Linked DNA regions of Homo sapiens. The protein of the gene in region 5 interacts with the protein of the main gene of each other region in a pairwise test. Each region holds a gene or a part of one and is shown on either strand. Other genes may lie near its edges.

Region 1 (4,342 bases), on a different chromosome or scaffold from region 5:
CCTCCGTGGGCTGCACCCACTGTCTAACCAGTCCCAGGGAGATGAGCCAGGTACCTCAGTTGGAAATGCAGAAATCATCCACCTTCTGCGTTGATCTCACTGGGAGCTGCAGATCGGAGCTGTTCCTATTCGGCCATGTTGCCTGTCACCCTGACATTTGTCTCTTTACGAACACAGTATTTCTGTCTGTTGAAGCTTCACCGGGGAGAGACCTCCTTTACTCAGTTTGATTCATTAACACTCAGCATTGCTGAGCAGTCATTGTGCCGGGCACATGCCCAGTGCTATTGTGCGTACATCTCATCTCATTCTCAAAGTAACCCTGAGAGATAGGTCATTTTCCCCCGGCTGGAGCAGAGGAATAGGGAGCTCAGACAGGGCGGCTCGCGAGAACGAGGTTGTGCGTGGCCGAGCCCTGATTTGGACAGAAGCGCACTGCCTTCCTCACTGAGTCTTTGGTCACAGCAGTCAGCCCCGGCCTCTGTGCAGGGGGACGCTCTGAACGTCCTTACTGTGCTTGTGTGTAGGGCTTGGGGTTTCTGACAGAAATTCTCTTTCTCCATAAACCTTGAGGGTTTCCTGTGCAGGTGTGGTCACAGGCCGGAGGGTGAAAATGCTGACTGCCCTGGCATGTGCCCAGGTCCCATCAGGAATGGCTGGTGCAGCCTGTACTTCTCTTGGTAGCCCGCTGACAAAGGCGGTCTTGTTTTTGTCAAAGATGGGGCAGTCTTAAAATGAATACAAATAAGCGGCTCAAGTTTGAGACCCTCACGGAGCAGGTGGTTTCAAATGTCAGGCTTTGAAAAGGAAATGTTGAGAACTAATGAGAGAAGCAGGTCTCCAAAGCCTATTCCTTGAGGGCTTTTGGGCATCAGCTGCTTTTCCCCCAAGCTCCCTGCTGCCAGCTCTCTTGTCCACTAGGCTCTGAGCAGCCTTGGTGCTGGCACCAAGAAGAACCAGGGGCACAGGGACCCCTGCCAGGAGGCTCCCGCCAGCATCCTCAGGGCCGTAAGCTCCAACTCAGGTTTTTACTGAAACCTCAGTGTGCTTCTCAGTCCTCCGGGGTCAGCCTTGCTGGAGCCACCTTGTTGTGTGGGACTGACTGTTGCTCTCCTGGGCCGTCGTCATCCTGGGAGCTAGGCACTCCTCCTAAGAGGACCTCTTCACCGGTTTTTGTCTCGTTCTAGACCAGCCACTGCATTACGTAGTTGTGACTGAAATTTGAGTTGCTGAATTGTTTTTCAGTGTCACACCGCTATTTACTATTCAGGCCGCCACACACACCAGGCCCTGCTGCTGGTTGTCTCCCTCCAGTGAAGCTTTGTCTGAGCCATTGCTGTAATTACCTGCCTTAGAGCGAGAACTGGAGGTAGTCAGCTTGAGCTGTGGGTCATGTGGCCTCCTCCTAGTTTCTGTGCACATGTACACAGACATGTGTCTGCCCTTTGGAGTCTCCTGGGATCTGAGTAACCTGGATTGTTTTTAAAAACAAGTCAAACAAGATATGTGGAGTTTCCCCCCGATGTGTGAGGCTCCTTCAGCAGGGCTGTGATGGCAGCTGAGTGGATGGGGACAGGCTCTGGCCGTGCTCTGTGATCACAGAGCTGTCAGCAGGAGAACCCACAGGAGGTCTGATCTGGCCCTTGGCATGGGCTGAGGGGAGAATGTGCCACAGGTAAAATGCAGGCTGGCTGCCAGAGGTCAGCACCTTTTCCCGGTTGAGGCTGTATGCTCACTCAGCTAGGTGGTATGGCGGCCTTTTTATGGACACCTGGCTTCTGGAAGGTAGCTGCCAACGTGGTACTTGGGGAGGCGAGCCAGCTGTTAGGGTGGGAGCAGAGGCCCTGGGAGCTCAGAAGGATGATGATAGCTGCTGGTTCAAAATACGGACCTGCTGATCCTAAGCTATTAATCTTAAACTTCTGAAATAAAGACAGAGATGGAAGGAGTTAGAATAGTGCTGGTCCATATTTTCCCCGAAATGAGAAGTAGACTTGGAATCCTTTTCTATATCCAGGATCCTAGTTCCTGCATTTTTTCCTCTGGTTCTTATTAGCATTTTTCACTTTAAAAAGTAAAAATACGTATTACAGTTGCCAAGTTTAAATTATTGGGATAAAATGCCCTACCACAGAATTAAAACCAAAATAATGCTCATGTGATGTCCCTTAAGGTGGTGAGTGGGTTCAGGACCCTCAGCCACCTGCTCAGCAGGGAGAAGGCAGGGAGGGAGGGGTCCCTACTCGCACAGGACAGCGGGGGACAGGCCAGGGCATACCATTCGAGTCCATCACAGAAGTGGCTCTGGCAGACTCTCTTTGGAATAAGAATAGAAATAAGTTTTGTATCTGAAGTTGGTTAAGTTTCTCTGAAATTCGCATCAGTCAACACCCAGGTCACAGCTTCCTTTATCCTCTCTTGGAGAGGATCAGGGAAAGGGTTGAGAGAGCCCTGCCTTCTCAGAGGGCGGCCGAGCGGGCTGCCCCATCTGCCATGGAGGCAGGTACAGGCTCATGGCGTGGCGTCCACAGCTCCTACCATATCCTTCTTGCTTCTCTGCAGAGAATCTGGACGAGGCTAGAGAACAGAAAGAAAAGAGTCCTCCAGACCAGCCTGCGGTCCCCCACCCGCCTCCCAGCACTCCCATCAAGCTGGAGGAAGGTGAGCTCTGGGTGGCAGCGGCCGCCACTGTGGGAGGGTGCACGGCTCGTGCGCGCTGTGGCGGAATGTGGCGGGAGTCGTGTTAACAGCAACACGGAAGTGTGTGCTTGCATCAGCGCCAGGACGTGACACCTTTCTCCTCCTATATTGCTTCTGTCCTGGGTAACTCCAGGCAAAACAGATTTGTATGTGAGCTGTGACCAGGTAGGAAGGCCGGCCTCGGGGGTCGGAACCCACCATGGTTGCTGGTGTCCACGTTGCCCATTGCTCGCACACTCCTCGTGCCGTGTTGTCATGCAGATGCCACCTTCGGAGGTGCCCTCCGCTGTGTGAGCCACACGCCGGCTGCCTCTCAGCCACCGTGTGTCTGTGGTGTGTGATCCCGGGTGTCTGTCCCTCGGTCTCGTACATCCATGTCTCTCGTGAAGCCCGTGGCCCTGCCTTTCTTCTTCTGTAACCTGATGGCTGTGACTGAATGCATAGATTCTCTCCTTGTGCTTTTTTCTCCCTGTGGCTGCGTCACAAGCAGGAGACGGATGCGCTAGAGAGTACCTGTTACCCTAGTAAGTACCGTGCTGCCTCCGCTCTCCACCGGTGCCCTGCGCTTTGCCTCATTCTCCTGCTTCTTTGTTGTTTATTAAGTTTTGTTTTCTGTTTATTTAAAATAAAAACAGAAGCCCCCCTTTTTTGTACCCAGTCCCTTGGAGGCCTTCCTGGAAGTGGTTCAGTCACCTGAGTGCTGTGCTGCCTTCAGCGGCAGCGGGTACCTCCACGCACCTAGGTGCCATGGAGCACTCTGGGCCTCAGGAGTTCCTACCTCCAGCCTTTGAGGGTCTCTTTGGATTGCTTGGTGGGAGGGTTTTGCCACACTGGATCAGATGTAAGTGCAGCCTCGGTTCAGACAGGGTGGGGTTCTGCCACCTGCCGTGTGGGGTCAGATTGCCTTGGACCTTTGCTGAAGCTGGTCCAAAGGAGGTGGGCAGAGGAGCGGATATTGGACCCTCGTAAAGCAGTGTGATGTTCACTCAGATGATGGCAGCTCTCCAGAGCGAGTGCCCTGGGGCAGCCTCCGTCCTAGCATCAGCCACACCATGCCCAGCAGAGCGGGCCCCATCTCCTCAGGGGGAGCGGCGCCTGTGTGCCCATAGCCCTTTCCCGGTTCTCATGAAGCGTGGCCTGGAATTAGCCTGGGGCAGCTGGCAGGGTGGGGGTGCTTCCAGCTTCCCAAAGGTAAAGCACTGAGAGTTTGGGGCCTGGGCCTCCTGTGCTGCTCCTAACCACTCAGCTGACTCCCCTGGCCCTGATGTGTGGCTTGATTTTTAAACACTAAACAGCTTGTGGTGCCTAACCTGTCAGTTGCTGGTAACTTTGTAGGCCGTTTACGAATGGACAGAGCGGGTGCCCGGGTAAGTGCAAGGAAGGCGCCCCCAGGCTGTGTCCTCAGGGCCGCTGTGCTCCTTCACAGATGGCCACTCCTGATGCTGGGTGGAGTTTTTGCCCCCACTCCTTGCCTTACAGGCCATCTCTTTCCTTTTAATTAACTTCCAGCCTAAACGGCTTTGTTCTTTTGGATGTTGACGTCACACAACGTGCTGTGGGAGTTATGCACGATTTTCTACTGGCTGTTTTGGGGGAGACCAGGTGTTGTAGACCCAAATTTAGACTTAATTTCAGTACTACT
Region 2 (4,483 bases), on a different chromosome or scaffold from region 5:
GCTATTGAGCACTTTAAATGCAGCTAGTGCTACTGAAGAACCAGATTTTAAAATTTACTTAATTTCATTTTAAGCAGCCATGCATGATTGGTGGCTACCATATTAAACAGCACCTCTATAGATACAGAGGTGAGTCCAACACATTCATACGCAACACACCCATAATCTGGCCAGCCCAATGAGCCCAGCTAAGCTAACTTATTTCTTTTTTAAGCAATCATTGTAACATTTACCAATGATCCTCATGTGCCTCCTGTTCTAACTAGTTACTTTTGGATTTCTGACTCTTTGTTTTGTCTTAAGATCTGACTCCTGACTCTTGCTCTTGGTATTGAGCTTTACCTCGCCAGCTCTTTTCCCACTGTGCTTCCTAATCATGGGTTTTGAGTTAGACACACTCCACTTTCATACCCTGTTTTGGATTTTCATGGATAGGAAGCACACTACCTGACATCCACAGACTCAACCTCCATTTCCGGCTAACCAGAAATTCTTGGGCTTGGTCCTCATAAACTTCTGCAAAGGGGAGTCGTAAGTAGCCTGAGTAGACTAATAAAATAACAATTTCTTGAGTGTTTGCTATATGTTATATTAGGTTCCTAGGGCTGCCTTAATAATGTACTACAAATTGGGTACAGTATTTTGGGGGGTACATTATTAATTTTCATAACAAATTATGAAGGTTGTCTATGAATGAGGTCGGGGAAATAATTGCCATACACTGGGTAATAATATATTACATTACTTGGTTTTAAATACATTTCTGTTTAAACAACAGACATTTATTGTCTCACAGTTATGAGAAACAGAAGTCTGCAATCGGGCGTCAGTGGGGTTGGTTCCTTCTGAGGTCTGTGAGGGGAAGTCAGTTCCAGGCCTCTCTCTTAGCTTCTGGTGGTTTTCTGGGAAACTTTGTCATTCCTTAGCTCATAGAGCTCTGCTTTCATGTTTACATGGCATTTTCCCAATTTGCATGTCTATGTCCAGGTTTCCACTTTAAACAAGGACACCAGCCATATTGGGCCCATCCTACTCCAATGTGACCTCATCTTAACTAACTTAATCTGCAGTGACCCTATTTCCAAATAAAGTCACAGTCTGAGGAACTGAAGATTAGTACTTTTTTTTTTTTTGAGACAGAGTCTCACTCTGTTGCCCGGGATGGAGTGCAGTGGCACAATCTTGGCCCATTGCAACCTCCACCTCCCCGGTTCAAGCAATTCCCCTGCCTCAACGTCCTGAGTAGCTGGGATTACAGGTGCACATCACCATGTCTGGCTAATTTTTTTTGTATTTTTAGTAGAGATGGGGTTTCACCGTGTTGGCCAGACTGGTCTTGAACTATTGACCTCAGGCAATCCGCTTGCTTCAGCCTCACAAAGTGCTGGGATTACAGGCATGAGCCGCCGCACCCAGCCAAAGATTAGTACTTTAACATATAAATTTGGGGGGAACATAATTCAACCCATAATCTATGGCAACTTGTTTTACATATATTCTATTATTATAATACATATAGATAAGAAAATTCAGGCTCAAATAGGTTAAGTGACTTGTCTAAAGTCACATAGCCAGTCACTGGCAGGCCATATACGTCTGACACTTGAGCTCATGCCTTAAACATCTGCATCAGCATTTCCCATAGTGTGAGAAATGTTCCACAGTTGGTTAGTCAGATAATTTTAAGTGTCATATGGACAATAATTACACATCCTGATGCACATTACAAAATAAACTAGCACATCAAATATGTAATTTCATGGATAACATTGTTTAGGAAGAAGCTAAGTGTAAAAAGTGAATTTATTTGAAAAAATATCGAGTGGTTAATAAGACAGGTAGCATGTGGATTTGGAAAACGTTATGAAGGTTGTCTGTAAATGACTAAAGTCTGGGAAATAATTGCCACACAATGGGTAATAATATATTACATTACTCTGCTTTAAAAGGAACTAATCTCTGGGATTAGCTTAAAGTGGGGAAGGACTAAATGATGGATTGTACCTGACCACTGACTCACAGAATGTTTCTAGACCTTTCTGGGTTTTTAGAATCTATGGGTTTGAATTAAAGGTCAGAGTGAGGTGTTAACTCCTAAGTGAGCAAATGCACTTTTCTCAGTGGGCAGATTGAACACCATTTTATCTTTACATATTGATGTAAACACTTCTATTCTGATGCTTCTTTTTCGTACTGTTGCTCTTAAAATGCAGTCAGAGTGTTAGTCAGCCTCTGAGCTCACCTCTGTGTTTATAATATGTTGCGTTGGCAAATAAAACTCATTTTCTTCAAGTGCTCTCTGAAGCTTTCCCTTTTCACTATTTTATTCCATTGAAGGTGCTGGCACTGGCAGGTCGTAAATTTTTTATGGCAAAATTAAGAGTTTCTAAACACATTTTACTCTCTGTGTCTCATTATTTTACCTCCTAATAAGTTTCAATCATTTTAGCACCTGTTTAAATTAAGATCCCCAAGGAAAACAGGGGGTAGGGGCAGGCAGCAATTAATATGTTCTAAAAATTTGCTGAAAAATTACTTAGTAAGATGGAACATAGTGACTCAGATGCTGGTGTTTTATGAATGCAACATTAAAATACTTTCTCTTAGTTTTAAAATCCATCCACACTTTTACTTTGTGAATCACTGGATGAACTAATGTGAAGCCTTTTTGGGGGAAGTGGCAAAGTGTCTTATGACTCTTGGGGGTGTAGGTGTAGGTGATGGAGTTATCTGTGTGTGGGTTTCTGTGTGTGTTTGAATTCCTAGAGATCCTTGGTGCCCTGCTCTCCATCCTGTGCATCTGGGTGGTGACTGGCGTGCTAGTGTACCTGGCATGTGAGCGCCTGCTGTATCCTGATTACCAGATCCAGGCGACTGTGATGATCATCGTTTCCAGCTGCGCAGTGGCGGCCAACATTGTGTAAGTCATCCCCTGGTCCCCACACACTGCTCATGAGGCTCTCCTGTAACTATCTGGACAAAGTCGACCTTTTAAAAAACTCAGTACATGTGAAGATGGTAGAGACTGGACAGAGTGTTTGAATGGCTCTAAGATTGAAAATAAGGTTGACTGCTTTCGTTTAAGCTAAAGTGTTTTTTAATATTGGCTTCTGCTAGCTATCATGTTTTGAAAGCTTCTGGTGTGCTAGAGGCAGGGTTAGGATGTTTGAATATATATTACCAACTTTAATGTTCACAACACCCCTATGTTATAGATTAGGAAACTAAAGCCCAGTGAGGTTAAATACACTGCCAGTTAAGTAGTACAGAGCCAGGATTTTAATCCAGATTCGCAGACCCAGAATTGAGCTGCTTTACATTCTGCTCTCAGGCATGCTGATGGTTCCACATGGGGCATGACTTACTACTGTTCCATTTCTATGGGGTGAGCAGATGGTGGCTTCCCAGTGAGCTGGGTGGAAAGGGACTCTAAAATGTATTTACTTCAGTCCCCATTTTACTTTTGCATTTTCTTTTGCAACATTTCCATAAAATGGTCATTAGTTTCATATATTTTAATAGAACTCATAAAAGGAAATTTATTTCCCTCAAAAACAGCCTCTTTTATCTTTGCAGCATTGTGACTGCATGAAAATTCTTCCTTATGCTATGTTAGTTAAATTCTCCCTTAAGTTTCAACCTGCTTGTCCATTCTTTTATCTAGGCAGTCTTAAATCATTCTTACAGGAGATGAGCATATGTCCCTTGACAAATGAGTCTACCTTTCCCAAAATGAACTACTGGATTGCCCAGGCAATGGGGTTTTGAGGCCAGGACTTTGATTTTTTTGAGTCAAATTTCTCCTTCCCATTTGAGGGTCTAATTCTGGGCAACTCTACTTAAAACTCCATCCATCCATCTATCTATCTAGTGATCTAGCTAGCTATCGTGTTGGTGGACAGAATAATGACCCATTCTCCTAAAAAGCTTTAAACATCCTAACCCCTGGAACTTCTGAATATGTTAAATCATATGGCAAAAGGAACTGTGCAAATATGATGAAGGATATTAAGATGGGAAATTATCCTTGATTATCCAGGTGGGTCCACATAATGACAAGCGTCCTTATAAGAGGGAGACAGGAGATCAGAGAGGAGAGAAGATGCTGTATTTCTGATGTTGAAAATGGAGAAATCGGCCTGGAGCCAAGTGGCCTCTGGAAGCTAGAAAAGACAAGAACATGAATTTCCTTCTAGAACCTCCACAAAGGATGCAGTCCTAGAGACCCACTTTAGATTTCTGACCTCCAGAACTATAATAAGTTTGTGTTGTTTTAAGCTGCTAAAGCATCATGGTTATTTGTTACAGAAGCAATAGGAAACTCAGCCTATTTATCATCTGCCTATCTATCTTGCAATACAACTTGACACATGCTATGAGGTAGATTTTTACATGAAGGTAGAGAAGACAGTGATCGAAAAATGAAGTTTTAAACAGTGGATTTTAAGAGGGGGCACAATGACATCTCTGGAATTCAAGAATA
Region 3 (4,483 bases), on a different chromosome or scaffold from region 5:
TCACTTGTCAGTGTCAAACATTTTTCTAGAAAATTCTGTTAAGTAGAACATCCGTATTAGTAAGACAGTGTAGTATGATCAAATTACAGAATGCTTGATCTTTTGTACTCCTAACCAGTGTAACCTGTGGCCACTCTTTTTCAACATATCCTTAGGTGTTTGTGTTACTAAGGTACTCATCACCAAACACTTTACCAAGTCAAATGTGCCATTTATTAGGTTTTTGAAATTTTTAGTATTCCCTGCACTTCTTAAATCTCTTTTTCTTTGCCGCTTACCATTTCCATGACCTTGGGCACATTACTGAAACTTTCCAAGCCTTAGTTTCTTCATTCATAAAATAGAGATAGTAAGACTCATTTCACAGATTTGTGAGGATTGCATGAGGTATCTGCAAAGGTGCTTTCTAAACTATAATTTATCGTACAGTTGTAAGGAGGTATGGTGAAGGTGTTCGTCAGAGGCCAGTTTGGTTGTGACTTTGATAGAGTTGTGTTTAAATAATCTTGGTTAGGGTGGGGCATGGTGGCTCACGCCTGTAATCCCAACGCTTTGAGAGGCCAAGGTGGGCAGATCACCTGAGGTTAGGAGTTCAAGACCATCTTGGCCAACATTGGTGAAACCCTGTCTCTACTAAAAATACAAAAATTAGCTGGGCGTAGTGGCATGCGCCTGTAATCCCAGCTACTCAAGATGCTGAGGCAAGAGAATCGCTTGAACCCGGAGGCGGAGATTGCAGTGAGCCAAGATTGCACCACTGCACTTCAGCCTGGAAGACAGAGCGAGAATCCATCTTAATAATAATAATAATAAATAATCTTGGTTAGACTTCAAGCCACACTGTGGCATTCTTTTACATTGAGTTAAGTGTAAACTACCTGGGACTGTGTTTAAATGGAGTATATAAACCGAAGGCATCCCCAGCTGGAGTTACCTGGATTAACTTTTTGCTGCAACTACTGGGGTCAACAGAAAGGGGTGACATTTCTCTTACAAGGAGCCCATGCCTAGATGTGGCTTCTTTCCTGTCTACTCAGAATAGGCTATGTGTGTCAGACCTAAGTCTTTTCCTACAAGTTGAGATTTTTTTTTTTCCTACAGGGTGTGAGAGTTGGGCTTTTGGCTGTGTATAGTTGGGGAGAATTATAGCTGTGGTGGTATGTGGCTTGGTTTACTTGGCGACTTCTCTTCCTAGGCTGCAGATCCTTCTAGGCCCTGACCTTCTTCTTTTTAGCTGCTTTTTTCAAGGTAAAGTAAGTAGTTAGTAGCACATGCTGGCCCAGGAGTCAGGTAGACCTGGATTTGAGCCCAGACCTCACTGCCTGCTCATGATCTCAGTAGGCTTCAGTTCCCTCATCTGTAAATGGGACTAACAAAAATACCCACCTCATAGGATTATTAATGGGCATTAGATAAGAAAATGGGTATATATTAAAATTTAGCATAGGGTCTGGTGAGTATTCAATATTTATGAATATTATGAATATGTATGAATATGGCTAGTGAGTAGCCAATATTTATATGTATTTATTTGTGAATTTATGTATCTCCTCTGGAGAGAGCATAACTAGTAAACATGGAAAAGCTTCAAAGCCTTAAATTTACCCATCATTGTTTATTGCTCCTGGTCTGTGGATTCTCTGCCTTCTCTCAGTGGTAACCCAAAGTACCTTTCACTTCTTGCTTTGCTGTTTCATTCTTTTCTTTTTTTCTTTTTTTTTTTTTTTGGAGATGGAGTCTTGCTCTATCACCCAGGCTGGAGTGCAGTGGCACAATTATGGCTCACTGTAACCTCTGCCTTCCGGGTTCAAGTGATTCTCCTGCCTCAGCCTCCTGAGTAGCTGGGATTACAGGTGTGCACCACCACACCTGGCTAATTTTTGTATTTTTAGTAGAGATGAGGTTTCACTATGTTGGTCAGGCTGGTCTTGAACTCCTGACCTCAGGTGATCTGCCTGTCTCAGCCTCCCAAAGTTCTGGGATTACAGGCATGAGCTACCATGCCCAGCCTTCTCTTTCATTCTTGTGGGTGGTTCTCACCAACCTTGTTTTGTCCTCAGACTCTTCCCCTTTTCTAGGTGAAACCAACCCCTTCCTCCACGAAAGCCTCTTTCCTCAGGACAGAGCTGACTTTTAAATTGGTTGGTTGAATTTGGGGTTTTGTGGGCTAGGTATCCTTAAAATCATTTCTAGCAGCCTCAAAATGGTCTGCCTTGAATCTCATGTCTTTATGTCATGGGGAATGACAGCCTTTTCTCCCTTCTTTCTTCTTCATTGTGTTGGAAAGTGTCCTCCCAGTTTCTATTGGCAAGTCTTCATTTGAGTAAATTCCAATCTTAATCTACTTCAAATATATATTGAATCATTATCTGCTTCAAAAATATAATGAAAACTGGTCAGGCATGGTGGCTCATACTTGTAATCCCAGCACTTTGGGAGGCCGAGGAGGGCAGATCACCTGAGGTCAAGAATTTGAGACCAGCCTGATTAGCTGGGCATGGTGGTGCGTGCCTGTAGTCCCAGCTACTCAGGAGGCTGAGGCAAGAGAATCGCCTGAACCGAGGAGGTGGAGGTTGCAGTGAGCCTAGATCGCACCACTGCACTCCAGCCTGGGTGACAGAGCAAGGCTCCTTTTCAAAACAAACAAAAATATATATATATATAAAACGAAAACCTTCAAATGCATAAAAAGCGTATGAAGAAAAATACAACACACACCCTGGTACCCACCCCTCAGCTGGTTAACGGCCTTCATTTTTCTCAGAAGTCAGCACCTGTTAGAACCTGACAGGCAGCCTGGCCCGTCTCTCCCTGTAGTGTGTTCATCCGGTCCTGGTGTGCGTGTGTGTCACCCTGTGTTAGGCCACCAGCTTCAAGTCAGCTCTTTGACCTGAGTTAAAATTCAACTTCTTGATTTGATGATTGATTAAAGAATTCTCAGAACATCCAGTATTTATGCAATCTTAATGTACACGTGGCCTCTAAGGAGGAAAAACAGTAATAACCACATACTCCTGGGTGTTATATTAGATGACAGATCTTTCTTACACAGCTGCATGTTTGTTCTCGACAGCGAATCCCCTGAGGTGGTACTGCAGGTGGTAGATCAGGTCCCCTTTTACAAAGGAGAAGCAGCCATGGTGGATGAGTCCAGAACGTGCAGCCTCAGTTTTATTTTCTTTGATTTGGGTACTTGTCTCCTATAGTTCTTTTTTTTTTTTTTTTTGAGACGGAGTGTCACTCACACTGTCATCCAGGCTGGAGTCAGTGGTGTGATCTTGGCTCACTGCAACTTCCACCTCCCAGGTTTAAGCAATTCTCCTCCCTCAGCCTCCCGAGTAGCTGGGATTATAGGCATGCGCCACCATGCCTGGCTAATTTTTGTATTTTTTTAGTAGAGATGGGGTTTCACCATGTTGGCCAGGCTGATCTCAAACTCCTGACCTCAAGTGATCCATCTGCCTCCACCTCCCAAAGTGCTGGGATTACGGGCGTGAGCCACTGTGCCTGGCCACTCAAATAGTCTTGTTTTAAGAACAAATATTATCATTTCTATAAATAGAAAACAACATTTGTTATAAATAAGAAGAACTTCTGGGCGTGGTGGCTCATGCCTGTAATCCCAGCAATTTGGGAGGCTCAGGTGAGAGGATCACTTGAGGCCAGGAGTTTGAGACTAGCGAGAGCAACATAATGAGACCCTTATCTCTCAAAAAAAAAAAAGCTAGACATGGTGGTGTGCGCCTATAGTCCCAGCTACTCAGGAAGCTGAGGTGGAAGGATTGCTTGAGCCTAGGAGTTCAAGACTGCAGTAAGCCAAGATTTCTCTACTGCACTCCATCACTCCACCCTGGGTGACAGAGCAAGGCCCTGACTCTTAAAAGAAAAGAACCATATAAATACTCAGTGAAAAACCAAACAATCTTATTAAATCCAGAGGCAGATCTTGTTGCTAGCAAATATATTGATTCTGAGGCTGCCGTCACTTTGGCACCTAGTTAGAAAATGGTCTTAAAGACAGAGTAGCACCAAACTTCAACTTTCTTCTCAAGGCCAGCAGAAGAACTTTTAACAGAATAAAAAATGGAACAACTTTTTTATTTTGGGACTTAATGTTTAATGCTACATATGTGGACTACCTAAAATTATCTTGTTTTCTGCCAGTAGTTTATGTGCTGCTCTAAGTGATAGCAGATCAACTGTCAAATCTCTGTGGATTAACATAGTAAAGGTTTATTTCCTGCTCATGCTACATGTCTAAAATGGGGGTGGGGTAAGGGCAGAGGGCAGGCTCCTCGACATAGTTACTGCTGCTCCACATAGCCACTCAGTTACCTAGGCTGAAGGAGGTTCTACCATCTTGCCAGTGCATCATGATAGAAGAAAAGCTATGGATCAGGCATGGTGGCTCACACCTGTAACCCCAACGATTTGGGAGGCCGAGGTGGGAGGATCACTTGAACCCAGGAGTTCAAGACCAGCC
Region 4 (4,483 bases), on a different chromosome or scaffold from region 5:
AATAATAATTTGTAGCCAGGAAGTAAATAAACATCACAACAGCAATCTTGCACCCGATCTATTACAAATAAACCAGAATTTCATCATATTAGAACACTTTGTTGTACTGGATGCCAACATTAGACCACTAAAAAACAAGTCTTCAGTTTCTTTTTCAGGCTAATATGTCTCCTTTACACAGTAAAGTCAAAACTGTTGAGAGGCCAAAACAGTTATTTTAATGCATCATTTTTCAAGACTATGAACTTGATTCTATTTTTAAAATAAGTTTTTTCTTTAAGAAGTTACCAAAAAAATCACCTTTTCTCAATTTTTTCACTTTATAAAAATAATACACGACCATCACAGAAAATTAGGAACATATAGAAAAGTATAAAGAAGAAAATGTTACCCATATTTTTAGCTTGAATTTATTTTATTTTGGTCTTTTATGCAGCTATTGCTGCAAAACAAGCTGCCCCCAAAGTTAGTGACTTATAACAATAAACATTTAACATATCTTAGAAATCTGTGGATGGGCTGGGTAGTTCGGCTGATCTGGGCTAGGCTTGTCTCGGCTAGGCTCACTGAGTAGAGGTCTACTCTCAACTGCTACACTATTGCGTCCACTTCCTTCTGTTGGGGAAAGCAAGTCTCAGTGCCAGCCCAGAATCAGAATCAGCAGGGACTATAAAGTTACAGGGCAAAGGCACAGATCCAGACAGGGTATTAATTCACACCATCAAGACAATCAATCTACTATACCTAATTTCAGATATATTGCTTCAATGATCTAATTGAGTGAATTATTGGATCAATCTATTTACTACCACCAGGACATTCAAGAGCAGAATCAAGTAACATAAAATTTTATATTGGAACAAGTCTTCGAGTACTCAATAAAGGGACTAAATATCATGGGCTTTTAAATTGCAAGCTTCTGGTTTTGCTGATGGGATTTTTACTTTCGAAAGTGGTGAGCCCCATGACAGTTGCTGTGGTGCCTATGCCAAATACCATTCCAATCTTGTGCATTTTGCAGTTTCCATTCCAGAATATTCTTGAGGAAAAAACCCAAGAACTTTTAATAAAATGATTGATTAGACATGAAAGGACAGAATTGAGGGAGAAAACATCACTATACAAATTGATAATCCATTTTAGTTAGTTCAGAGATAAGTAAAAGCAAGTTAACATGTTTAGTGGACTGTAAAATTGTACTTATTTGTAGTGTTATACAAATTAGTAATGAGAGAAAATGGTGAAAACACTTACATATTGTGATTTGTCCACAGAAGTTGCCTCAATGGAATTTTGTGGGTCATCCTGCATTATTAGGGACTCCAGCTCCTTTACTCCTATGTGAGCATGGACTACTCTGTCTTTGACAAAGATGCTTGTAGCTCTCAGCATGAAAGACACAAATAAGTGCATGTGGATATAGTTCCTAGTGCAATGCAATCGTCTACGGAGAGAAATATTCAGTATTTAAATTTGGATAAAATTAAAAATGGGGGAAACACCCAGTGCGACTGCTGCCACCACCAACCAGCCTGCTCCCCTCCAGCAGGGACTGGTTCGAGACTCCACACAAATTCCAAAATCTGCAGATACTCAAGTCCTTTATATGATATAGTGCAGTATTTGCACATAACCTATGTACATCATCTTGTTACTTTAAATCATCCCTAGATTACTTATAATACCAAATACAATGTGAATGCTATGTAAATAGATGTTATACTGTATTGTTTAGAGAAAAATGACCCAAAAAATAAGTATGTAAATGTTCAGTATGAACACAACCAAACTTTTTTTTCTGAGTATTTTCCATCCACAGTCTGTTGAATCTGGGGATGTGAAATCCCAGTATATGAAGGGTGACTGAATTGGTGCTCAAAATTTTGTAATGATTTCGATTAAGTTGAATGGAATTGGACACATGTTAAAGTGGATAAAAAATAAACCATAACAAAAGCAATAAATACTATTTCTTTATGTGCTGGTATCCAATAATTTGGGAGATTATTTAAGATGAATTTTTGTCCAATAGCACCAAAATCTCTCGGGAACTCATTCAATTCGATGCTGTCTTACTTTGCAACAAATATACTTCAGTACATACTTATTGGGTTAAAGGTTTCATACTACTTTGATACTTTAAGTTTTTAAACAAAGAACCCTGAATTTGTCATGAAAAATTAATTGTCAAATAACATAATAACATTAGGCTGAATTCAAAAACTTGCATTTGAGGAAAACATTTGGAAAATATTGTGAGACCGCTATGTCTTCTCTGGATAGGAAAGACAATGTGCCCCTTCATGGAAAAAGTGATGGGCATCACTCACCTGAAGTAACCAATGATGAGAATAGCCACAGCCAAGGAACCAAAAGAGATGGAGTAGCCAACGGTATACATTACATAGAGGCGTTCAAAGAATTCTTGCTGCAAGGGAAGAGATGCTCATGTATGATATGGGACTATTTTACCAATAAACTGGCAAAGAAATAGTATGTCATTTTTGGAATCTTATTTCTAATTCTCTTTAACTTTTTTAAGCTGTAATTTGCATGCAATAAAATGTAGAGATCTGGAGTGAGCATTTTGATAGGTTTTGACAAACCAAGTTCATTTGTGCCCCTTGCTAGTCAAAAAAACACCCACTATCCACCCCCAGGAAATCACTGTTCCAATATCTGTCACCACAAATTAGCTTTCTCTGTTCACATACTTCATATACCTCTTGACTATTCTTAGACTTCTTAGGATTACATGTTACAGTATATACTTTTTTATCAACATACTGTTTTTTATATTCATCGATATCGTTACATGTATAAATAGTTCATTCCTTTTCAATTATTTTGTTTTAAAATAATTATAGATTCAAAAGAAGTAGAAAATAGTGTAAGAAAAGCCCCAGGTTCCCTTCACCCAGTATTCTCCAAAGCTTACATCTTATGTAATTTTACTAAAATATCAAAACCAGAAATTTAATATTGATGCGACACGCATATTTATAGTTCTATGTCATTTGATCATATGTACATTTTTGTAACCATTACTGTAATCAAGTACAGAACTATTTCACCAACACAAAGTTCTCCTTGTTCTGTCCCTTACGGTGACACCTCCTCCTCTCCACCATGCCAAACACCTGGCAACCATTAATCTGTTTTCTGTCTCTATAATTTTGTCATTTCATAAATGTCATATAAGTAGAATTATACAGTATGGGATCTTTTAAGATTGGACAATGGTGTAGAAATGTGATTGGACAAAAAGGATGTAATCTAATACTAATAGACTAAATGGGGAAACTCAACAAGCGTTTTCCATGTTTCAATCAGGCTAATCCAATGAAGCCTCCATAAAAGGGCCAAGAAAATGGGATATAAAGAGCTGCTAGACAGCTGAATTTACGGAGGCTTGCAGGAAGGTGAACCAGAACTCATCCATTTACCAGAAGGGTGGTGCACCCCAACTCCACCGGAACAGAAGCTCCTGCACTTCAGACTCTTCCAGACTTCGCCCTATATGTCTCTTCACCTGGCTGTTTATTTGTATCCTTTAAAATATCCTTTATAATAATATATAGGAAACGTAAGTGTTTCTCTGAGTTATGTGAGCTGTTCTAGCAATTAATCAAGCCTAAAGAGGGGTTCGTGGGAACCCCAACTTGAAGGTGGTTACTCAGAAGTTCAGGGGCCTGGTCTTGCAATTGGCTGCTGCCTTGTGCTCACTGGGAACTATGCATCTCTAGGGGATTTGTCTCAGCTTCCCTGCCCTTCTCCTGGCCTGTGGGCTGCATCAGTCATGCAGTTAGTGAGGGCCCCCTGTGCCTCAAGGGATGCCTCTCAGCTCCTCTGTCCTGATCCATGCCTTCAGCCAACTGCTGCCTTTCACTCTGTGAGAGCCCTGTGCACATCTCAAGGAATTTCTCTGAGCCCTCTGCCTGCCCCAGCCTTTGGCATACTTCCCCCATGCACTCGGTGAAGACCTCACGGCAAAGAATTGCCTGGTGGATTATAGCTTACTAAGACTAGGGCTTACTCCTTGGGATTCTAACTCTTTATGCTAGCCCTTGTCTGCTATTGGTATAAAAGCTTGTCTCTTTTCTCTTTGTCCCCTTCAATAGCCTGTTTTCTCCCCTTCTACTGTGGTCCTAGGGATACACGCAGCCATGGGTCTCTTCTCTCATAGGAAGGGCTTGCCCATTTCTGGAATTTAGTTCATTTAGATTTCTTGGCATCCTCAACTCATGTTTACAAATTATTAATTTTGCATCTAAGCCAACTTATTGTTGCGACTGCCTACAATCTGACTGGAAGCAGGAAGACTTTGCCTCTTGTTTCTTTTAAAAAAAATATTAATTACTTATTATTTTCTCTTAATAAAATAGTAAAACTTTTCATAGAAAATATTTGAATAATGTGTAAAACATAAAAGAGAGGAGAAAAAAAATCTTACAAATTCTAACCAATCAGAAAGAAACACTGT
Region 5 (4,483 bases):
TAGATTTTCTTTAGACACAGGAAAAATAAACAAACAAACACATGAGACCGAGAAATCAGAAATAACCAGGCTCTAAAAATTAGAAAGCAAACGATTATGTGAGATACAAAAGAATAACAAAGCCTAAAATTAATTCACCAATAAGCCATTAAAAATAAAAAAGCCTCACAAGATCATTGCAAAATATATTCCACAATGATCTTTAAGAATAAAGTCAATAACTCAAGATGCTTTGGCTGTCGTTTCTAAAATGAATTTGAAGTTGAAAGCATTGTGAATATTAATTTTAAGTGTGTTGGCATAATGTTCAAAATTTTCCATAACAAAGGTGGTAAAATGGCAGGAAGTGAGAAATGAAGAAACTGCTAGTGAAATCTTAAGATCCCAGGACCTTTATAACATGAAAAACATGCAAACATAATACCTAGATTTCATTCCTATAAACAATTGTTTAAAGCTAGACAGAATGTATCTTTCCTACTCTTGTCACCACTAGCTTTTTTTTTTTTTTTTTTTTTTTTTTCTGAGAGGGAGTCCCTCTCTGTTGCCCAGGGTGGAGTACAGTGGCACGATCTCAGCTCACTGCAACCTCTGTCTCCCAGGTTCAAGCAATTCTCCTGCCTCAGCCTCCCAAGTCACTGGGATTACAGGTGCCCACCACCATGCCTGGCTAATTTTCTGTATTTTTTTAGTAGAGACGGGGTTTCGCCATGTTGGCCAGGCTGGTCTTGAACTCCTGACCTCAGGTGATCCACCTGCCTTGGCCTCCCAAAGTGCTGGGATTACAGGCTTGAGCCACCGTGCCCAGCCTCCACTAGTTTTTTAAATCTTTGAACACAAAAATGACTTGGTGCCCAGTAGAAAAGCTAAGCAGTTCACAGCTTAAGAGGGAAATCTGACACCCGAGCTCCTGTATTCATAACGGTGGCCGCCTAGTAAGGGGGCTGGGCTGTGTGAACCACCTGCCAATGGCAGCTGAGCAAGAAAGACACTGAAAAGCTATGTAATTTCAGAGCACTTAATTTCTACTTGTATTTTTCTTCCTAACAAAAGAAAGCAAAGTTTCCCAGAATAATTTGAAAATGAACAACAAAATTATCAATCGAAAGTCCCAAGTTTCAACATGCAAAGCTCTACCTCGAGCCAGTTCCTAGGGGATTTCAATGGAAACTAATGTATGAACAAGAAAGGCTGGTTCCAGAAGGAATCTTAGCCATATTTCGCAGTGGCTTTCTCTCAAATTTGCTGGCTTCCCATATGCTTTAACTGTTACTGGGCTGCTGCAGGAAAACAAAACTTAATGACACACAATCCCAACATGCACAAGGCATAACAGATATAAACATAAGTCCACAGATGACAGCATAAAGACTTAGGACATTATCATCCTATCTTATTCAATCTCCAACTTAACTGCAGTTACATGAGATCAGTTACCTAAGCTATACGTCTCAATATCTGCCAGTTAGATGGGTAAAGTGGAGACGCTTGGCTCCCATTACCATGGTACAAAGATCCCTCTCCTCCAAAGTCTTGACTCTCCTCAGACTGGTAATCTTTTCTCTTCTTTGCCAGAGCAGTCCAAATCAAGCTAATTATGTAAGGGCAGAGGACAGCACCACATAGGTGCATTAACACACTGCCCCTTGGTACAGATTCTCAGAGCACAAAATAAGAAACATTAAAGCAATTCAATGAAACTGTTCAGTCTCTGAAAGGTAACAGAGAAATTCTACTTAATGGAAGAGTGGTAATAAAAACCATCAGCGCTCTTCCATTACTGAGCACATTTCACGGCATGGAGAGGATCCTTCTGGGGGCTTGGGTGTACTTAAGCTGCTCCAAGGATAGCTCAAAGGATTAAAATCATAAGGATCTGATTACCCTTTCACTGAAAGGGTCTAATTTGTTCAAGCTGAGTGTCATTCTGTCATTTCTCATAAATTAAAGGAGAAACAAAATTATTGTTTCTATCTTAGTTTTCACATGAGATATAGACACTTTCTTGAGAGTAATACTCGCTAACTCTTGGGTCTAGTGGGCTGGCTTTCGATTTGAGAGGAGCAAGAATATTCTTCACTTTGGTTTCCATTCTATATATTGAGTGGAGGTTAAGAGAAAAGAGGCCCTTTTGAACTGAACCTATTTTGCTGTGATCTAGGCTCAGGGCCAGAATTTCAAAGAGTGTGATATGTGCTTCTCTCAAGAGACTTTTACTTTGGGAAATGCTCTTAACATTGTGTACCAGCCTGAAGTGCCCCACTGCTATGCAGAATGGCTTTCAGGTCAGCATTTCTTTAGCTCTAATATGCCCTCTCCAGTACCTGCCTTGGTAACAATGACTTAGGGATCCAAGTTTCATTTAGGAATACAATAGGTTTCTTTACTATACACAAACCAAATAGTTTACTTAACTGGCAACACATTTTGCTGACACCTTGGGCAACGAGGCCCATTTTTACTTTCAACGCTGTAATTTATGCTATGTAGCATGGCACTGTGCTGTCAAGAATGTTAGACTATGACACAGAAGGCCTGGGTTTCTGTCACAATTCTGCCTCTAATTTAATTCAGTAAGTGATTCTGGGTAAATTCTTTCCATTCTATATACTGTCTTAGGCAAGTCACTTTCCTCACTGGCAAAATGAGGTGGTCAGTTGAGAGGATCACTGAGTCTCAGTGTTTTACTCCTCATAGGATAAGTAAAGGGAAATAAGTATGTATTTAGGATCTATGGTCTTTAGACACTGCAAGATATTTGCTCTTTTATTAAAAACTTACTCATACCTCTGCTCAAGCCATTTTACCCACCCTGAGATGCCCACAAAACCTAGGTCATTTTTAAGTCCTGATTCAATTACTCCTTTCCATGGGCTCCTTCTGCGGCTGCTTTTCACCCATAGTGCTATTTTTCTGAACTTCTATTATACTAAGAAGTTATATGTAAGAAAATTACTGGGTAACAGTGTTTAAAAACAGTTTTAAAACTTTCAAATCAGTTCTTTTATACTGCAATTGTTCTAAAATTATCTAATTTAGGAAACATATTATTCAGTGAAAAATAAAAATGGATGAAGTAAGGGACATTAATTGGGTCAACACGCTTACTAAAGGAGCTTTATCCTGCTGTGGCCATACCAACACATGGATTTACAGAACCTACTGTATAACCTTTTAAGAAACAACTGCTGGCTCTCCATCTACTCACTCCTTTTTTTTGTTTGGTTTAACATGTGTCTAATCCTGTAACAGGGAAATACAGAGACTCACTTCTTTTTGCAAATCACAGAAATTACAGAAATTCATATCACACTAATGTATCTGAATAAACACCTTCACTTCTCAAATAATCAGCAGCAGGTTCTATGATACAGACTAAATCTACATCTTTTCTGACTGCAACTATCAAGTTTACTGAAGACAAAAATGCTACATATAGTTTGGCCAGCAAAATTCATAGTGATGAAATGAGTCAGATGACTGACACCTATTCAGATGACTGACTAGAAAATGTGAGATCTAATGTTTCAGGTTACTGTCCAAATTCTCTTTGGTAACTGTTAAGGATAGAGAAGCTATAAAATAGAGAAAAAAAGAAGCACAGGAATTTCATGATATTGATAGCTGGGCACACAGGCAAAGAAAGAGAGAAGTAATTATACAAATGTCTGCTAATATGAAAAGTTTACAATATTATTATGATTTAAAATACAAAGAATACATACAAAGTTTCTCCAGCAAAACAACATAACATTTCATCCTAATTAGAGCATAGAATGTCATATATAATTACATTTATATAGGATTTATCTGAAGAATAAAATGTAAATATTTACTATGCTTCTCACTTTATAATTCATAGATGGTAATAACGTCTATTTGACCTGTGAATCTGAATCTTTTCTCTATGTTTTAAGGTAACCAACATTTCCTTGATTTAGTAAAAAACCAAACACATGTAAAAGAGTACATCAGAAAATTCTTTTTGTTCAAATTCTCAGTTATTTCAGGTCAACTTTGAATAGATTCCATAAAATAATCATTTGTGGAATACCTTCTCAAGGCAAAGGTATCATGATAGGTGGTATGGGGTTGGATATAAAGATGGAAACTAGACTGTGTATGTCCACAAAGACATTACAACCAAAGAGTGTGAGCCCTTGAATTACCTCAAAACCCCTAGGTCAGATCAGCTAAGCACATAACACAAGTATAGAGAGCCATGAGGGTTAAAGGAAGTTAGAGGAAACAAGAAAAGTTTGAAGGAGAAAACAGAATTTGAAACAACACACACACCTAAATCCCATACACACACAGAAACACAGGCCTAAATCCTAACAATGGGGCTGAACCAAGTGGGAGGAAAGAAGCCAGTACACAAACATGTGCTAGTGAAGTGAGGGAATAGGAAAGGAGGTGTGAGAACTGAGATACTGGGCCGGGCGTGGTGGCTCACGCCTGTAATCCCAGCATTTTGGGAGGC
Region 6 (4,483 bases), on a different chromosome or scaffold from region 5:
AGTGCTTAGAATAGTGTCTGGCAGATAATAAGCACTTAATAACTTTTGCTAATAATATTCCTACTACTGGTTATGTGACTTGGGAAGACACTTAGGCTCCCTGAGTCTCTGTTGCTTTAACTCTAAGATGGGGATGATACCTGCTACCTGCAAACTATAAAGCACTCACAAACATAAAGTTTTCCTCTTATCAATGATTATTATCATTAGAATAAATAAATATTCTGTCTATCATTTAATTTATTTTTTTAGAAACTGGGTCTTACGGCTGGGCGCAGTGGCTCACGCCTGTAATCCCAGCACTTTGGGAGGCTGAGGCGGGTGGATCACAAGGTCAGGAGATCAAGACCATCCTGGGTAACACGGTGAAACCCCGTCTCCACTAAAAATACAAAAAATTCTCCAGGCGTGGTGGTGGGCGCCTGTGGTCCCAGCTACTCCGGAGGCTGAGGCCGGGGAATGGCGTGAGCCCGGGAGGCAGAGCTTGCAGTGAGCCGAGATCGTGCCACTGCACTCCAGCCTGGGCGACAGAGCGAGACTCCGTCTCAAAAAAAAAAAAAAAAGAAACAGGGTCTTACTGACCTAGAGTGCAGGTTAGAACGCATTGGTATGGTCCTAGCTCACTGCAGCCTCAAACTCCTGAGTTCAAGTGGTCTTCTTGCCTCAGTCTCCCAAGTAGCTAGGACTACAGGCGTGTGCCAGCATGCCTAGCTAATTTTTTAAAAACTTTTGTAGAGACAAGGTCTCACTGTGTTTCCCAGGCTAGTCCTAGTCTCCAGCGATCCTCCTGCCTTGGCCTCCCAAAGTGTTGGGATTACAGATATGAGTCACCATGCCTGGCCAGATATCCTATCTAGCTATAGTGAGCATCTCAGCCTGGTGTAGTGGCTCATGCCTGTAATCCCAGCATTTTGGAAGGCTGAGGCAGGAGGGTCACTTCAGACTAGGATTTTGAGACCAGCCCTGGCAACATAGCAAGACCCTGTCTCTACAAAAATAAAAATTTTTTAATTAGCCAGACACGGTGACATGTGCTTATAGTCTCAGCTACTTGGGAGGCTAAGGTGGGAGGATCACTTGAGGCCAGGAGTTCAAGGATGCAGTGAGCCATGATCACGCCACTGCATTCCAGCCTGAGCGACAGAGTGAGACCTTGTCTCTTAAAAAAAAAAGTGAGCAGCTGGGTACGGTGGCTCACGCCTCTAATCCCAGCACTTTGGGAGGCTGAGGTGGGCGGATCACAAGATCAGGAGATCAAGACCATCCTGGCTAACACGGTGAAACCCCGTCTCTACTAAAAATACAAAAAAATTAGCCAGGCGTGGTGGTGGTCACCTGTAGTCCCAGCTACTCAGAAGGCTGAGGCAGGAGAATGGCATGAACCCGAGAGGTAGAGCTTACAGTGAGGTGAGATGGTGCCACCGCACGCCAGCCTGGGCAACAGAGCGAGACTCTGTCTCAAAAAAAAAAAGAAAAAAAGTAAGCAACCCTAAATTAGGGGTTCTCAAAGTCAAGTGAATAGGTCAGTCATTGGGGTTAACAGGTTGAGTTTTTGATCTGAGATCACACAGGAAATGGAGTCAGGGCTGCCTTTGCTTTACTCCAGTTTTCATAGTCAGGCTGTGCCATCCTGGTGCTTGCCCTCCCTGCTGCTCCCTCTTGTTTCCTGTGCTCCGATGGCCTGCATCCAGGTCTCTGATTTTTCTTGCTTCATTGTGTGATTGTACAGATGTGTGCCTCAATAGAGCAGTGCCTCACGAAAGGCTGGGTTTTGTCTTTTTAAAATTTTCCTTTCAGGGAACGCTGTGAGGAGCTCCGTGTTGAATTGTTATCTATCCATCAGAAGAAGGTGTGTGAGGAGCGGAAAGCACAGATTGCATTTAATGAGGAGCTGAGCAGGCAAAAGCTGGTGGAAGAGCAGATGTTCTCCAAACTCTGGGAGGAAGACCGATTAGCCAAGGAAAAGCGAGAAGCCCAAGAGGCGAGGAGACAGAAAGAGCTGATGGAGAACACACGCCTGGGGCTGAATGCCCAGATCACCAGCATCAAGGCACAAAGGCAGGCGACACAGCTGCTGAAGGAAGAGGAGGCACGCCTTGTGGTGGGCCTTTAAAATGCTTGTTAGAGGGTGATCAACGCCATGGGTGTAGTACAGTTTGCAGGCCTGTTACAGTACAGTTTGTCTGATGGCCTGGGCTAGTTCACAGGCACATTTCCATTTTTGGACTCTTAGTGCTGTTTAATAATGTATCCAAATGTGTGGTGCAGAGTTCATAGAAGGGTCAAGTGTGGAAGGCCAACGCACCCACAGGTGGAGAATGGTGGTGGATGATGGGTACTGGGATTAAAAGTAGTTTCTGTTTATACTTTTCTGTTTTCAACTCTACAACTATTTATTACATTATAATCACACATGCCCAGGCAATTTTCACAGTTTTATTGCTGACTCAGCTACGAAAAGGAAGGTTTTCTTTCTTACAGCCTCTCTAAATCCAGGTGTGTGTGTATTTCCAGAAATCCTTTATTCCCATCTCTGAAGTCAAATGCACTAACTTGTCTTGTCCAACTGTACTGATGCATTATCTTTATTATGATTCTACCTTAGGAAAGTAACAACGCACAGATTAAACATGAGAATGAACAGGATATGCTAAAGAAACAGAAGGCAAAGCAGGAAACTAGGACCATTTTGCAAAAAGCCCTACAAGAGAGGATAGAACATATTCAGCAGGAATACAGAGACGAACAGGACTTGAACATGAAGCTCGTGCAAAGGGCCCTTCAAGACTTACAGGAAGAGGCAGATAAAAAGAAACAAAAAAGAGTAAGACATTTTTTTGGTGCCTGCTACCTGCTGGAAGGGATTCCTTACTGAGTTCTCAGTCTTGTGGAAGATGGCTTCAAATATATAGCAGTGCTACTCTGAGTGTGGTCCACAAGCCAACAGCATCAGCACCATCTGGGAAAATGTTAGAAACAGAAATTCCCAGGCTCCAGAATCAGGATCTCCCAATCAAAATCATGACAGGGGCAGGAAATCTGTGTTTCAGCACACTCCCCCAGGTGATTCTGATGCTAACTAAAGTTTGAGAACTCCTGGAATTTGAGAAAGACATTACTCAGAAAGTGACATTTGAGTTGGACCTTAAAGGATATGTAAAGTTTTGTCAGGCAAAAAGAGAAGGGAAAGGCATTCAGTATTGAGTTAACTACCTATACGTTTGGAATTTGGATTGAACTTTTAAGAGTGTTTTGTTTCTCCCACAAGTGCTTTTTCTTGTTTTTACCTGGTTCTTAGTGTGCATGTACTTTGATTTTTAATTAAACTTCTCTCTCTCTCTCTCTTTTTTTTTTTTTTTTTTGAGACAGGGGTCTCACGCTGTAACCCAGGCTGGAGTGCAGTGGCATAATCATGGCTCACTGTAGCCTCGCCCTCCTGGGCTCAAGCAATCCTCCCACCTCAGCCTCCCGAGTAGCTGGGACTACAGACATCCACCACCTAGCCTGGCTAATTTATGTATTTTTTGTAGAGACAGGGTTTTGCCAAGTTGCCCAGCCTGGTCTGGAGTGGGCTCAAGTGATCCTCCCACCTCAGCCTCCTAAAGTGCTGGGATTACAGGTGTGAACTACTGTGCCTGGATAAACTTTTCATTTTGATATGATTGTAGATTCACATGCAGTTTTAAGAAATAATACAGAGAGATTCCTTGTACCCTTTACTCTGGTTCCCTCAATGGTAATATCTTGCAAAACTATAGTACCATGCCAGTCAGGATGTTGACATTGATATAATCAAGATACTGAACATCTCATCATCACCAGGATCTTTCATATTGCCCTTTTATAGACACACCTACTTCCCTCTTGCCCCACCCCCTTCTTAACCCTGTTCTTCATTTCTATAATTTTATTATTTTGGGAATGTTATATTAGTAGAATCATATAGTGTGTAATCTTTTCAGATAGCCTTTTTCACTTAGCATAACCCTCAGGAGATTTGTCCAACTTTTTGGATCTATCAATAGTTGTTTCTTTTTCTTTTTCTTTTTTTTTAATTTTTTTTTTTGAGACAGTCTTGCCCTGTCACTCAGGCTGGAGTGCAGTGGTGTGGTCTCAGCTCCCTGCAGCCTCAACTTCCCAGGCTCAACTGATACTTCAGCCTCAACCTCCTGAGTAGTTGGGATTACAGGCACAAGCCACCATGCTCAGCTAGTTTTCTTATTTTTTGTAGAGATGGGGTCTCACTATGCTGCCCAGGCTGGTCTTGAACTCCTGGGCTCAAGTAATCCTCCTGCCTTGGCCTCCCAAAGTGTTGTGTTTACAGGCATGAGCCACTGCACCCAGCCTTCTTTTTATTCTTTTTTTTTTTTTTTTTTTTGAGATAGAATTTTGCTCTTGTTGCCCAGGCTGGAGTGCAGTGGCGTGATCTCGGCTCACTGCAACCTCCGCCTCATGGGTTCAAGCGCTTTTCCTGTCTCAGCCT
Region 7 (4,483 bases), on a different chromosome or scaffold from region 5:
GATCAGAAGAGATTCTTTTATTGTCTGCATAGACTTGTTTCAGTCTAATGGCAGGCACAATGCTTCCAGATTGGAGTGGGCTTGACTAGGCCTAGCCTCAAAACTAACTGGACTGGCACTCTAAGGGTCTCCCAGAGCCAAACACACCTTTGCAGATTGAGGGGCTGGAGACTTTCTGTAGTCTTTTAAGCATGTTTATCTGAGCGGTGAGTCACAATAGAAGGCCCCTTACTATCTTTGGCCTAAAATGAAGGTATCAGGACAAAGCCTGCATGGCTGGTGATGCCAGGCAGAACTCCCTTCAAGCATAGCTCTGCGGTTCTGAATTGCAGGACACAGAGAGCAACAGAGAGATGGCTGCAGTCCCAAACACTGAGTATGACGTCAGCAGAGTCTCAGACTTCAGAAATGGATTTCTTAGAGCCTGATCCTGAAATGCAGTTGTTACGGCAGCAGCTACGGGATGCTGAAGAGCAGATGCATGGCATGAAGAACAAGGTAGGGCACAGAGGGTGGGGAAGGCAGGCACATTTCTTGTCTTTCTTTCACCTTCTCCCAGCCTGTGGTAGAAACATCTCCATAGGCATCCACTGTGGAGGGAGATAGTACTCTGGGGTCTCACTTGCCTGATGTAAATCTTCCAGTCAAAGAGCGCCATGCTTTCCCCAAGCTTGTTCTTGGAGCATATGTGGTATCTGTAGTAAACAAGCCTCCCTGTTCCATTTCCCACATAGTGTCAGGAATTGTGTTGTGAGTTGGAAGAGCTACAGCATCATCGCCAGGTCAGTGAGGAGGAGCAGAGGCGGCTGCAGAGGGAGCTCAAGTGTGCTCAGAATGAGGTGCTTCGGTTTCAGACCTCCCACAGTGTCACCCAGGTAAACACTGCCCGGGGAGGCATCTGGGGTGGGGGCAGAAGGGCCTCATGGAGGGGCTGCTTCAACCGGGGTGGGCACAGTGAGTATGGCTGTGCTCTGCTGACTCTTGCCCTGCAACTGGGCACAGTCTGCTGGAAACCAACTGTAGAAGTCATATAGCACTGCATTCTAGAAATGGTGGTCATTACTGAGTGTCCATCTCACAGAAGAAACCAAACCCTAGACCTGTGGGAGCTCCTCAAGATGTCTGCATCTGAAAAGGAACCCAACTGATCCGTAGAAAGACCTGCTGTTTCTTGAGAGTAACTGTTCTACTCACATCCTCCCTACCACAGAATGAGGAGCTGAAGTCCAGACTCTGTACCCTGCAGAAAAAATATGATACTAGCCAGGATGAGCAGAACGAGCTCTTGAAGATGCAGCTGCAACTTCAGACTGAGCTCCGGCAGCTCAAAGTCATGAAATCCACACTTGTAGAAAACCAGAGTGAGAAGGTAACAGCAACCAGAGGTGAGGGGACAACTTAGGTGCTAAGGGCATCCTTCTGAGGTTTTGGGGAAGGTGGATAAGAGTAGTGAGTTAAAAATAATTCCAGCAACCACATAGGCAGCACCACAGGTAAAGAACTCCAGCCCTGCTCGAGTACTACATTAGATATGAGGACATTAGGAAGTGAAGGGCAGGAAGAAGCAAATCTTAGACTGTTGGTGTCTTCAAGTGACTCACACAGAAGAGTGAGTGGGTTAAGGAGCCCAAAGGCACTGCCCAAAGCCCCCTCTACCATAGGAGTTACTGTGCCGGCTGCAGAAGCTGCACCTCCAGCACCAGAACGTCACATGTGAGAAGGAAAAGCTGCTGGAACGGCAGCAGCAGCTGCAGGAGGAGCTGCAGTGCCATGAGGCAGAGCTGCAGCACCTCAGGGATACGGTGGCCTCCTTCAAAGAGAGCAATGAGAAGGTAAAAGAAGCTCCTGGTGAGGGAGGATGTAGCCAGGCATCATCTTGTGTGAGGGTGAGAGCACAGAGGACGAGAGGGAATGGTAGGAGTGTGGAGGAGCTGGCAGTGAGGGGGCCAAAGAGGTGCTTAGGAGAAAGGTGACCTCGGGGAGTCACAAGGCTCTCAGCTTCCTTTGATTTTAAATCAGAAAAGCAGCATATAAAAAGGAAGTCCCTTTGCCTCCCCACCTCCCAAAAAAGGAAGCCCCAGAAGGTCTGTGTTTCTTTTTAAATTATTTTTATATTTATTTATTTATTTATTTAACTGGAAAGGCTGCACTGGGAAGGTCTGTGTTTCAAGCCTGTCAGGGACGGGTCCATCTTGGGTATCTATCCCTGGCTGGGATGAAATTGGGGCTGAGAAGGACAAGGGAAGATGGGTCCCCTTAGTCCCCGCCTGGGAGGAGAGAGTCCAGCAGCAGGAGTGCCTGGGATGATGGCCAGGCCTGCCTCCCCTGCCCAGGACACAGAGACGCACGCTCAGCTTCAGGAGATGAAGCAGCTGTACCAGGCCAGCAAGGACGAGCTGGAGCGGCAGAAGCACATGTATGACCAGCTGGAGCAGGACCTCCTGCTCTGCCAGCTGGAGCTGAAAGAGCTCAAGGCCTCCCACCCCATTCCGGAGGACAAAGGAAAGTGTGCTAATAAGGTAATTGTCGTTCAGAGAGGTGACAGCTCCTGGGCACTTGCTCCAGAGAGAAGAGGTACAGAGGCAAAAAGTGAAGGCACCCAACCCAAGGGCTTGATGGCCTTCCTAGGCAGGAAGCAGAGGCAGGGCCACATGCTGCTAACTTCAAAATTGTTTGCCCTGACCTTGACTTTGAGCCAGAGCCACAGCTTAGTAGGATCAATACCTTTGGATCCCAGTCTGAACCCCTGAAAGTTTTACACATGATTCCATGTATGTAGACATTTATACAATGGTATTAGAACTGTAGTGATATCTAGTCATTCTTGGAGGGGAACATATACATGGGCCCATTACACAAATATTATTGTTGGAACTAGAGAAAGGGGCCAGTTTTCTGGGTCAGATTGCAAATGGTCTTATAAAGGGGTACGGTCTTGTGCCCAGAGTGCTGATTGGGCAAGAGAAGGACCTAGGCTCTTCTAGGATTTATTCTGTGACTTTGAAGTAGTTAAATTCTTTTTTTATGAAATGGAGTCTCACTCTGTCGCCCAGGCTGGAGTGTGCAGTGACACGATCTCAGCTCACTGCAGCCTCCGCCTCCTGGGTTCAAGCAATTCTCCTATCTCAGCCTCCCAAGTAGCTGGGACTACAGGCACATGCCATTGTGCCTGGCTAATTTTTGTATTTTTAGTTGAGACCGGGTTTCGCCATGTTGGTCAGGCTGGTCTCGAACTCCTGACCTCAGGTGATCCACCTGCCTCGGCCTCCCAAGGTGCTGGGATTACAGGCATGAGCCGCCATGCCCTGCCAGTAATTAAATTGTGGAAGGTTGAATTGTGCCCTCTTTAAATGGAAGAGAATACTACTCTTAACTCACTTCCTTTTAGCAGTAAATCCTGGTAGTGATAAATAAGGCCTTATTCATTTTTTTTCTTTTCCATAGTGTATAAAATGCAAGCCGTTATCATTTATCCTGTTGAGCACTTTCAGCTCCTGATTACTGATGGGAAATGGAAAGGTGTTGAAGCATGTTGGAGAAGAGGCCCAAGAGTCTCTAACGATGGTGGAGTTGGTCACATTCTGCCAGAAAACTCAGTAGTTCCTGTCCCTGGGGAAAGGCCTTCAGGAGACGGAGGACTGGGAAGGTTATTTGGGCCACCTCAGCAGTCTCTTTGCCTTTCTATATCCAGGCTCACGTTTCCTCCTTTTTCCACTGCTACTCAATTTAGGAGCCCAGGTGATCTGTGACTTGCTCGTCACCTCTTCCCCTAATGGGAAAAATGATGGGAAAGGAGAAGCATGCTGGCAGACAGCACCTGCTTTTTCTCTAGCCGTAAAACAGCATTGAGATCTGTCTGATATTAGAAGATCTGGGTTTTTGGAAATGGGATGATTTAGTCTTCTCAACCCAAATTTACCAATAGCGCATACTTTCTAAAGATTTAAAGAGAGAATTAGGAAAGCAAAAATGGGAAAAATTAGGGTGAAATTAAGTCCTTATTTGTAAGGAGTGTAGTTGCATTAAAAAACAACTGGGGTTAATGAGAATAACAGGAGCTAAGAGTTCCCAACAGGGTGGGAATATGGTGTATAAAGGAAAGGGCCGGAGAAGAGGAAGGGGGAAATGAGAAAGGGGCATCGATAGCATTCCCCATCAAACTGCCCCCAGAAAGGAATGGTGGAAGTTTAGAGCAAGGCCAGCCACCAGTCTAGAGCAACCTGCTCTGAAGGAGCAGCCTGCAGGGGATCCCCAATCGGTATCTAAACAGCCAGAATGCATTGTGGCTTGGGGTGACCAGTCCAAGGTGACTGCACAGGGAGAGGATCACAAGAGGCAGGAGAGCGCAGAAGTGCTCTGTTAGCCACCCAAGAAGCTTACCTTACAGAGTAACCACCCCCTCCACACCCGCCCCCACCCACAGTGTGACACACTGCTGTCCAGACTGACAGAATTGCAGGAAAAGTACAAGGCCAGCCAGAAG

Evidence for each region.
Region 1: the proteins of HMG20A (region 5) and ADD1 interact in binary tests that used the Homo sapiens proteins (3 or more experiments, as listed by UniProt).
Region 2: the proteins of HMG20A (region 5) and SLC30A8 interact in binary tests that used the Homo sapiens proteins (3 or more experiments, as listed by UniProt).
Region 3: the proteins of HMG20A (region 5) and TBC1D22B interact in binary tests that used the Homo sapiens proteins (3 or more experiments, as listed by UniProt).
Region 4: the proteins of HMG20A (region 5) and PTH2R interact in binary tests that used the Homo sapiens proteins (3 or more experiments, as listed by UniProt).
Region 6: the proteins of HMG20A (region 5) and CFAP53 interact in binary tests that used the Homo sapiens proteins (3 or more experiments, as listed by UniProt).
Region 7: the proteins of HMG20A (region 5) and CCDC136 interact in binary tests that used the Homo sapiens proteins (3 or more experiments, as listed by UniProt).

Annotation. Positions count from the first base shown.
Region 1 is NC_000004.12:2,923,452-2,927,793, forward strand, and holds part of ADD1 (alpha-adducin), read left to right. Parts: intron 1-2,562; coding exon 2,563-2,661; intron 2,662-3,190; coding exon of another isoform or gene 3,191-3,224; intron 3,225-4,342. UniProt on the Homo sapiens protein: Membrane-cytoskeleton-associated protein that promotes the assembly of the spectrin-actin network. Binds to calmodulin.
Region 2 is NC_000008.11:117,154,925-117,159,407, forward strand, and holds part of SLC30A8 (proton-coupled zinc antiporter SLC30A8), read left to right. Parts: intron 1-2,766; coding exon 2,767-2,920; intron 2,921-4,483. UniProt on the Homo sapiens protein: Proton-coupled zinc ion antiporter mediating the entry of zinc into the lumen of pancreatic beta cell secretory granules, thereby regulating insulin secretion.
Region 3 is NC_000006.12:37,274,255-37,278,737, forward strand, and holds part of TBC1D22B (TBC1 domain family member 22B), read left to right. Parts: intron 1-4,483. UniProt on the Homo sapiens protein: May act as a GTPase-activating protein for Rab family protein(s).
Region 4 is NC_000002.12:208,440,309-208,444,791, reverse strand, and holds part of PTH2R (parathyroid hormone 2 receptor isoform 1 precursor), read right to left. Parts: intron 2,429-4,483; coding exon 2,331-2,428; intron 1,445-2,330; coding exon 1,255-1,444; intron 59-1,254; coding exon 1-58. UniProt on the Homo sapiens protein: This is a specific receptor for parathyroid hormone. The activity of this receptor is mediated by G proteins which activate adenylyl cyclase. PTH2R may be responsible for PTH effects in a number of physiological systems.
Region 5 is NC_000015.10:77,472,527-77,477,009, reverse strand, and holds part of HMG20A (high mobility group protein 20A), read right to left. Parts: intron 1-4,483. UniProt on the Homo sapiens protein: Plays a role in neuronal differentiation as chromatin-associated protein. Acts as inhibitor of HMG20B. Overcomes the repressive effects of the neuronal silencer REST and induces the activation of neuronal-specific genes.
Region 6 is NC_000018.10:50,249,099-50,253,581, reverse strand, and holds part of CFAP53 (cilia- and flagella-associated protein 53), read left to right. Parts: intron 1-1,797; coding exon 1,798-2,101; intron 2,102-2,605; coding exon 2,606-2,824; intron 2,825-4,483. UniProt on the Homo sapiens protein: Microtubule inner protein (MIP) part of the dynein-decorated doublet microtubules (DMTs) in cilia axoneme, which is required for motile cilia beating.
Region 7 is NC_000007.14:128,805,027-128,809,509, forward strand, and holds part of CCDC136 (coiled-coil domain-containing protein 136), read left to right. Parts: intron 1-332; coding exon 333-498; intron 499-734; coding exon 735-875; intron 876-1,210; coding exon 1,211-1,369; intron 1,370-1,661; coding exon 1,662-1,832; intron 1,833-2,333; coding exon 2,334-2,519; intron 2,520-3,509; exon of another isoform or gene 3,510-3,738; intron 3,739-4,423; coding exon 4,424-4,483. UniProt on the Homo sapiens protein: May play a role in acrosome formation in spermatogenesis and in fertilization.